3 separate regions of the Homo sapiens genome follow, and all the other regions are linked to region 1. Evidence: fine-mapped QTL for protein levels in blood plasma. A gene starts in region 1. Each other region holds a variant in brackets. All regions are shown on one strand. Distances are between the middles of the regions. Region 1 holds the start of PER3 (period circadian regulator 3). Region 2 holds the start of VAMP3 (vesicle associated membrane protein 3). Region 3 overlaps PER3 (period circadian regulator 3).

The links. A credible set is the group of variants that fine-mapping cannot tell apart. PIP is the posterior inclusion probability: the model's chance that the variant is causal. Protein levels are from antibody-based Olink assays in UK Biobank. Linkage for the fine-mapping came from a reference panel and not from the study's own genotypes, which makes the PIPs less certain.
Region 2: its variant is the best candidate, but not a certain one, in a credible set for the plasma level of the PER3 protein (UK Biobank, PIP 0.55).
Region 3: its variant is the best candidate, but not a certain one, in a credible set for the plasma level of the PER3 protein (UK Biobank, PIP 0.53).

The regions. Positions count from the first base shown.
Region 1 is chr1:7,783,502-7,786,259 of GRCh38, reverse strand. It overlaps PER3 (period circadian regulator 3), which reads right to left and starts at 1,969. Exons shown (of 22, transcript NM_001377275.1): 1 at 1,884-1,969; 2 at 1,255-1,606; 3 at 674-819. The coding sequence starts at 1,382. RefSeq lists a silencer at 1,894-2,503.
Region 2 is chr1:7,770,516-7,773,273 of GRCh38, reverse strand. VAMP3 (vesicle associated membrane protein 3) reads right to left here and starts at 1,978. Exons shown (of 5, transcript NM_004781.4): 1 at 1,889-1,978. The coding sequence starts at 1,890. RefSeq lists silencers at 1,615-1,844, 1,809-2,051 and enhancers at 2,285-2,334, 2,078-2,758. The variant T/A (reference allele first, on the strand shown) is at 1,171.
Region 3 is chr1:7,804,824-7,807,581 of GRCh38, reverse strand. All of the region lies in intron 10 of PER3 (period circadian regulator 3), which reads right to left. Among named protein-coding and RNA genes, the nearest start is that of PER3, 22 kb to the right of the region's middle. The variant C/T (reference allele first, on the strand shown) is at 1,559.

The sequences.
Region 1 (2,758 bases):
TTTTAGAGACAGAGTCTCGCTCTGTCACCCAGGCGGGAGTGCAGTGGCGTGATCTCGGCTCACTGCAAGCTCCGCCTCCCGGGTTCACGCCGTTCTCCTGTCTCAGCCTCCCGAATAGCTGGACTACAGGCGCCCGCCACCACACCCGGCTAATTTTTTGTATTTTTAGTAGAGACGGGGTTTCACCGTATTAGCCAGGATGGTCTCGATCTCCTGACCTCGTGATCTGCCCGCCTCGGCCTCCCAAAGTGCTGGGATTACAGGCGTGAGGCACCGCGCCCAGCCTCATTACTGCATTTTGAAAGTATGTGTACGGCATGTAAAGGTAACTATTTCGTGGAATGCATTTTTTTCCCATAACTTCCATAGAAGACAATATTTCTTTAAAAGGTCAGCCTTCAAAATGTGCTTATGCTAAACTCTACTCTCTTGCAACACATGAGCAAAACATTGCATAGGTATTATACACTATTATACAGATAAAGTTTTCCTGGTCTTTCACATGTGAACAATTAAGACACGAATGGAATCGGTGTAGATTTGCTCATCTTCCACAAAGCACCAGAAAAAGCTCAAATTATTTGTCTGACTGAGACCCCACTGACCACTCCTCTGGCTGCTTGTATGAGTCCTGGTGCATTCGTAGGATGAAATTTCTCTCCGGCTTGTTTACCTTGAACGCTGTGGACACAGCGGAGAGCATAGTTGAGGGCATCTAGAGTGCTTGGTTTATTGCGTCTCTCCGAGGGGAAGTATTTTTTCATTTCTTGGACAACCATGATAAGTTCTTCAGAAACTCTGTTTCGATCTTGCTGTTCACTGGAAGATAAAAAAAAATTACAACTTCATCCTCTGAAGACAACAGCATCTTGCGGCTTAGGGAACACAAACTGCAAGCCAGGTAAGTTTCTAAGTGCTCTACCGGCATCAGTCCACAGGGTGGTGACCCCTCTTCCTCTAGGTGGGGAACTCGAGGCAAAGCAACTGGTGAATGACAAACATTCTCCACTTACTTTCCCTTAATCCACTTGAGCCCCAACTCAGCTAACTTTTGTAACCACTTTTCCCTCCTGATACTCTTCGGTAATTTTCTTCAGTGTCACGGATCACTTCATCCTACATTGCCCGAGTCTCCCCTTTACACTTTCCCCTGGGCTTGAAAACAAAAGAATAAAAAGATTTAGGTCCCCCTTTCCCTGCTCCAGGGAAGGACAACGAACGCATGGGGCCCTCGGCCTGAAGCCAGCGCGTCACCTGTGGCTGCTGTCCGCCAATTTCCTCTGCAGATGGAACTCGGGGCTCCACCGCTCCCCCGATTCTTCGCCCAGGGCCTCGTCCTTAGCCCCCCGTCTCCCGGGGCCAGGAGCTTCCCCGCGGGGCATCTCGAGGTCTCCGCGGGGCTCCACGTCGTGCTGGGACGGCCCGCAGCCTGCTTCTCGCTCACTTTGCAGTCAGTGACAGACACCGGTTTCTCACTCCGGTCCCCGCCATGGCGTTAGTGAGAACAGGCGGCCACCACGAGCCAGGGGGTCACGCTCATCTCCGAGGAGCTTTTCCCTCCAACATTTTCAAAACCCGGAGCTCGCTCGACTTTCAGGACTCCGGCCTAGGGGGAGGAGACAAGGGTGACAAGGGACAAATGGAACAGACAGTCCGACGCCAGCGGCCCGGCTGGCTGGGGCGCCCCGACCGCGCGGTCCTCACCCCTGCCCCAACTTTCCCGCGCGCCGAGGGATGGGGCCCGGGGAGGCGGGTGGCTCGGAAGCGCCACGCTCCGGGGGCCCCCAGTACCGAGGGCAGGGCTCGCGGGGCTCCTCTGCCGCGCGCGAGTGCCCAGAACTCCCGCCCGGCCGCCCAGAACTCCCGCCCGGCCGCGCACTCACCTGCTGCCCCCGCCCTTGGCCCCGCGCACAGCCGCTCGCCCCCGGGGCCGCCCTCGCGCAGTCTCGAGGCTCGCCGCGTGCCGGTCAGCAGCCGGCGCCGCGCCCCCTGCCGCCGCGTGACCGGTCCCGCCCCCGGGCCGTGCGATTGGTCGTCGGGGCCGACTCCGCAGGCCTCCATTGGCCCTGGGGCGGGGCGCGAGCCGGTGCGCCCGGGTTATATAAGCCAGGGCGAGGGGGCGGGGCCCCCGGGGCGCGTTACATAACGCGCGGGCTCGGGCGGAGGCCGGCGCTCGGCCAATCCCAGCAGGCCGGCGGGCGGGCAGGGGACGGGGTGGCCCTCAGCGGCCTCAGGCCTGTGCCGCGCGACTGGAGTGTCCGGCCCCCTGGCACGGCGCCGGGGCGGAGCCGCTGAAGCCAGCGCAGAAATGATAGGGCCAGGAAGCTGCCAGCCACGTGGGGGCGGGACCCGGGCTCTGTGGGGCGGGGCGGGTCCGGCCCAACCTCCACGTGAGAGGCGGGCGGGGAAGGAGAGGGGAGTGAGAGGCGGGGGCAGAGAGGGGCGAGAGGCGGAGTCGGGGGGCTTGAGTCGGGGTCAGGGGGAGGCTGGAAATGGGGACGGATGGGGGCGAGAGGCGGGGACGGGGGGGCGGATGGGAGCGGGGGTGCCGAGAGACGTGGGGAGCGAGAGGCAGGGGCGGGGGGGCGACGGTGTCGAGGGCGGGGGCATTAGAGGGAGGGAGAGGCGGGGACTGGGGGCGAGCAGGGGCGGCTCAGGCCAGCGCTCTGGGGTCGAGTCCTGGAGTTTGTAGGTGGCTCCCGGCTGCCCGAGCGGGTGTGGGGAGGAGCCCAGGGTGGGGCGGGCTGCCGGCAGCGGT
Region 2 (2,758 bases), 13 kb after region 1:
CTTCTAATTTCTCTATAATTTCCAAGACTGTCCCACCTACTAAAGGGACAAATGTTAAGCTTTAATAGGACCTACTTTGTATCCCTGAAGTATCTGATCCCACGATAGGTAAGCTCTACTGTCCTTTTTTGAAACTTGTTCTAAGGCACACATCTGCTTGAATGTACTCAGTACTTTCCTGATCTTTTCATTGTGGAAGGAACTGTTTTCATAGTTACAAACAGTTACAGAATGCCCTTTTTCCAATATGGAAAAATAGATTAATTTACAGAAACAGAGTCAGGAACACTGGGATGCAGGGAGTGGGTGGTGTGAGTGGAAAGGTGTGTTGAAGAAATGCCTCCTCTTTTAGGAAGGTACTCTTTCTTTTTCCCCCTCTTTTGAGAGACGGAGTTTCGCTCCTGTTGCCCGGGCTGGAGTGCAATGGCGCGATCTCGGCTCACTGTAACCTCCGCTTCCTGGGTCCAAGCAATTCTCTTGCCTCAGTCTCCCAAGCAGCTGGGATTACAGGCATGTGCCACCACGCCCGGCTAATTTTGTATTTTTTAGTAGAGACGGGGTTTCACCATGTTGGTCAAGCTGGTCTCGAACTCCTGACCTCAAGTGATCCGTCCACCTCGGCCTCCCAAAGTGCTGGGATTACAGGCATGAGCCACCGCGCCCGGCCCAGGAAGGTACTCATCTTTTAAAATCTTCATCAAAGGCTTTATTTCTCCCCATGCAGATCTTTCTTAACCACTCTGACTCTGAAGTCATTATTGGCTCCATTACTTGGAAAGTATCACTTTGGTTTTTCAGGTATAAAGTCCCGCCTCCTCGAATAGATCACAGGTTCCTGGGTCTTCTTACTCTCTTCTCTGTATCCTAGATAGCACCTAGCATGTGCCTTGGTATACAACAGTCTGATGGGCTGTTTGAACAGTCACTTTACATCTGTCATGTGTCAATGACCAGGGCTACAACAGATCTCATCACCGTCCTCACGGAGTTTAGTATCTGGTAGATAAGTAAGGACCATGCCGTGGCGCTAGACTCTTTCCATGCTTTTCCTCCTTTAACCCTCATAACTCTCTGAGGGGAATATTACTCCTATTTTACAAATGAGTAAAGTGAGGTTTAGAGAGTCAACACAGCTGGCTGCAGGACAGCTTGTTTTTAGATCAGGTCCTG[T/A]GTACCTTGGCTCTAGATCTTAACCACTGTGATCTATTGGCACAGCAGCCTCAGCAGGAACATTCGAGGGGGGTCCCCAGCTCCTGGAAGAAACCCGGGGCTTCCTCCGACGGTGAGCAATGAGCAGAATGGAGGTGGAAGAGGGAGTCCTTGTGATTCTTAACCATTAGCATTCTCTGAGTCTTACCACTGGAAGCAGGGGTTTGCAACGTGCTTTCGCTTAAGAGAGCGAAGGCCCACGGTTAAGTGATCTTTCCAGTGCAGATGCCCCTAGCTAGGCAAGGAGCTCTTCGGCCCACAGGGGCTCAGGACAGGGCCGAGGTCCTTTCTTTCGCAACTTCTGGGGCCCAGCGCAGCACCGGGCCGAGAGCGGGCGCTCCCGAACCAGGGCTGTCGTCCCCATTCCTCTCAGGGACGTCGGGGACTAGAAAGGGAAGGGGCGAGGAGCGGGCTGCGGGCGGGCAGCTCACTTCCTCCGGGAAGCGTCTCGCCGCCCCGCCCTTGCCCCTTCCGCGTCCGCCCGATGGCCGCGGGACCCGCCCGGCCCGTCTGCAGCCCGCGACCCAAGGGCCACCGCCCACCCCCAGGCCTCGGGATCCCCGCGCAGCCCCGGCCTGCGTCCGAGTGGCGGCCGGCGGCAACTGGGCAGTATGGCGGTCCCAGCGCGAGCTGCCGCCTGCGGGGCCCGAAGCCGCCCGCGTCGCGTAGCGTCACTCACATTTTGGCAGCTGCGGCGGCGGCAGCGGCGACGAGAGAGGGTCAGCAGAGAAGCGAAGTTGGGACCGGAGGCCAGGGAGATGGGTGGGACGGCGCGGCGCGGGGCAAAGACGTCACTAGGCGGAGCCGGGGGAGTGGGCGGGGCGAAGAGGGGGCGCGCCGGAAGTGGGCGGGGGCGTCGTGGGTGGGTGCGTCCAGGGCGGGGTCAGAGCGAGACGTCCCCTCCCCGGACGAGGTCACTTGGGAACTTGAGGGCCACAGGGGTCCCAGGGCGGTCCGGGCTCTGAAACGCAGAACGCAGGTCAATACAGCTCCCTGTCCGCACCGCCGTCCGCGCTGGCGCTTGGGGACGTGGTCTGTAAACGTGGTGCATTAGCCACTGGCGAGGGACTGCGTGGATAAGTGAGGGTGGGGGCAATTCATGTTATTCTGGGCTCGGGACCATTTCTAACAGTATTAGAGACAGATGACTGGCTTCTGCTGAGTGTTCCAGAGTAACCTAGTGATCCTGAGGGCACCATGTTTCTCTAAAGTAGTTGAAATAGGAAGTCCATTTCGGGTATTTGTCACATGGTGTTGGGTGAGGTTCCCGCTCATGTTTTCATCGGTGACACAAATATTTGTCACTGCAGATCATATTATAATCTGCTTACGAGAGCCTTGGCATCAAGGCTGTAGTTCCTTTATTTCTGTATTTTCAGGCCCTAGCACAGAATAGGTCCTCAGGTTTTGGTCGAAGGGAGGGAAGCACAAATCTGAACGCAGTGAGTTACCTTGTATATATTTGTTACTGAAATATTCCTACCAACATAGTTACCTACACCAAAAAATAAAACACTAATAGGTCATTGGTGGGTCTCTTAGATGAGAA
Region 3 (2,758 bases), 21 kb before region 1:
GCAGTTAGGATTTGAATCCGCCTACGTCTGACCCCCAAGCCTGGGCTGTCCTTTTTCCATTATGCCAGCCTGCCGTTTCTCAACTGATACATGCAGCTCAGTTACCTAAAAACTGAAACAGTTTCCCAAAGGCAGAAATTATCAAGACAATCATAGGATGCTGACAGTATCGTAAAAGCAGTCAGGAATATCTCCACGTCTAGGGACTATTCACTCACCCTGCACATTTCCATCACAGTGGAACAGCTGCACCAATCGCCTTTCTCTACTTTAGCATCTAGACTGTATCTAGATCAATATCTATCTGCATGGCGTCAGGTACACCATATGTCTGTGGCAAGCAGTACCTGAATATATAACCTTATTTCACAACTTGACACACTATACGTTTTATGTAACTGTCTCTCCCTATATCCCACTGCCAGGTAAGTGCCACGGGGTGAGGTATTTTGTCTACTTTGTTCACTCCTGGATCTTCAGTACCTAGAACAGTGTCTGGTCCATAGCAGGCACCCACTACATATTTGCTAAAGGAACAAATACATGGTTGATTGATCTGGGAATAAAAGTACACCTGGTTCCTAATATAAACACATTGTGAGCTTGAAAACCTTTCAGAGGTATTTGGAATTTGTTTTTTGAGTGAAATGGAAATAGAACAGATTGCTTTATGAGATTTACATATTCCTAGTTGTGAAAATTTCTACAAAACTAAATTGTGTATGTATGTGTGTGTGTGTATGTAATATATATATATATATATATATATTTTTTTTTTTTTTTTTTAAGAGACAGGGTCTTGCTCTGCTGCCCAGCCTGGAGTGCAGTGGTGCAATTCTGGCTCACTACTGCCTTGAACACCTGGACTCAAGCAACCCTCTTGCCTCAGCCTCCTAAGTAGCTGGGACTACAGGCACGTACCACCATGCCCAACTAATTTTTGTTTTTAAATTTTTTGTAGAGAAGGGGTCTCACTATCTTGCCCAGGCCAGTCTTGAACTCCTGGCCTCAAGTGATCCTCCTGCCTCAGCCTCCCAAAGTGCTGGGATTATAAGCGTAAGACACTAAAATGTATTTTAAGTCAGTAACTATGTAATGCAGAACTGATTAATCTGCAGGCAATAAGGAGACAGCCTTCATGAAACAGCAACAAAAATGCCATGAAGTATTTATTGCTTTGCTGTGTATGTGAAGTGAAGTAGGAGTAAGAGAGAAAACTTGGCTGCAGTCTCCACTTTCACTCCTCCCGAAGTGATCCCTGGGAAGGCTACTCTAGTTTACTGAGTATGGATTTTACCTGTAAAATGAGAGCTGAGGACACCTGACCTGCTTGCCTGCAGTGCTGCTGGGAAGGACTGAGAGAGATACAGGCAGGGTCCCTTGCTAAACAGTCTTGCAGCCCCCTTCCCATTTCAACTGTCACACTTACCAAACTCTAGTTATATATGACAGTGCCATTTTTATTTACTGTCTCTCCCATTACAGTGTGGGTTTCCTGATGGTAAAGAGAATGTTTTGATTACCATTACATTCTCAAGGCCCAGCACACTGTCTTACA[C/T]AGAGCTTTATACTTTATAAATATAATGAATAATTAATATTTTATGAGCAAGATTAATACCTACTAGACCTTAAATCCTTTCCCTCACATAATCTTTGTTGTTAAGATGTAAATACCAGTGTAATTTTTTAAAATACTGAAAACATTCTGAATATTCATTATATGTTGCATAATTTCACATATATTTCATCAAAGAACTGAAAAGAGAGCTTCAGAAATCCAGGCCGTATCTTTAACCCTGACTGGGGCTGGGGAACACAGACCATCAACGAGCCCCAGATGGAAGCCTCATGAAGGCATCTTACTGGCTGCAGTTTCCTACGTTCATGCCAAGCAACCATCGGATTTCATGTTCATTTCCCAATAGGTTTCCGTACTTGGGGGGTATGGGGTGGGGAGAAGGGACAAAGTCCTTTCTGAGCAATACCAATGGTAATTACTTGGCAGCTGTATTTCTTAATAATCAAATTCGTTTTCTAGCACAAATCAGTCTCATGAGTTAGGGCGGCCAGGAGCCCATTTCTTCCATTAAGTTCTACACGTGCTCTGCGGAGGGGCCAAACCCTGGAGTAGAAAGAGGTAAGAGCAACCTTGAGACCTCTTCTCACCATGGCTCGGCATCATCTCTACTGTAATATTAACAGGTGATCAAATACGTCTTACTGGTAGATCTACTGTTCTCAGGTTCATGTTCATGTAGACAATGCTGTATAACAAGATACCAAAAAACATAACTTCTCGATCTCAGCATGATACTGGAGTCAAGTAAAATTTCCATGCTTAAAAAAGATAGACATCAGAGGGAAACCTAGAGCCAGGTCAAAAGGCCTAGAGTTCAATTAAAAATGGACCACAGGGTTGGGCGTGATGGCTCACACCTGTAAGCCCAGCACTTTGGGAGGCCAAGGTGGGTGGATCATTTGAGGTCAGGAGTTCGAGACCAGCCTGGCCAACATGGTGAAACCTGTCTCTATTAAAAATACAAAAATGAGCTGGGTGTGGTGGCGTGCACCTGTAATCCCAGCTACTGGAGAGGCTGAGGCAGGAGAAACGTTTGAACCCAGGAGGCGGAAGTTGCAGTGAGCCGCGATCAGGCCACTGTACTCCAGCCTGGGTGACAGACTGAGATCCTGTCTCAAAAAAAAAAAAAGGACTAAAGATTCAAGGGCCTAGGGGTAGGGGTACTGTAGCCTACAAGAA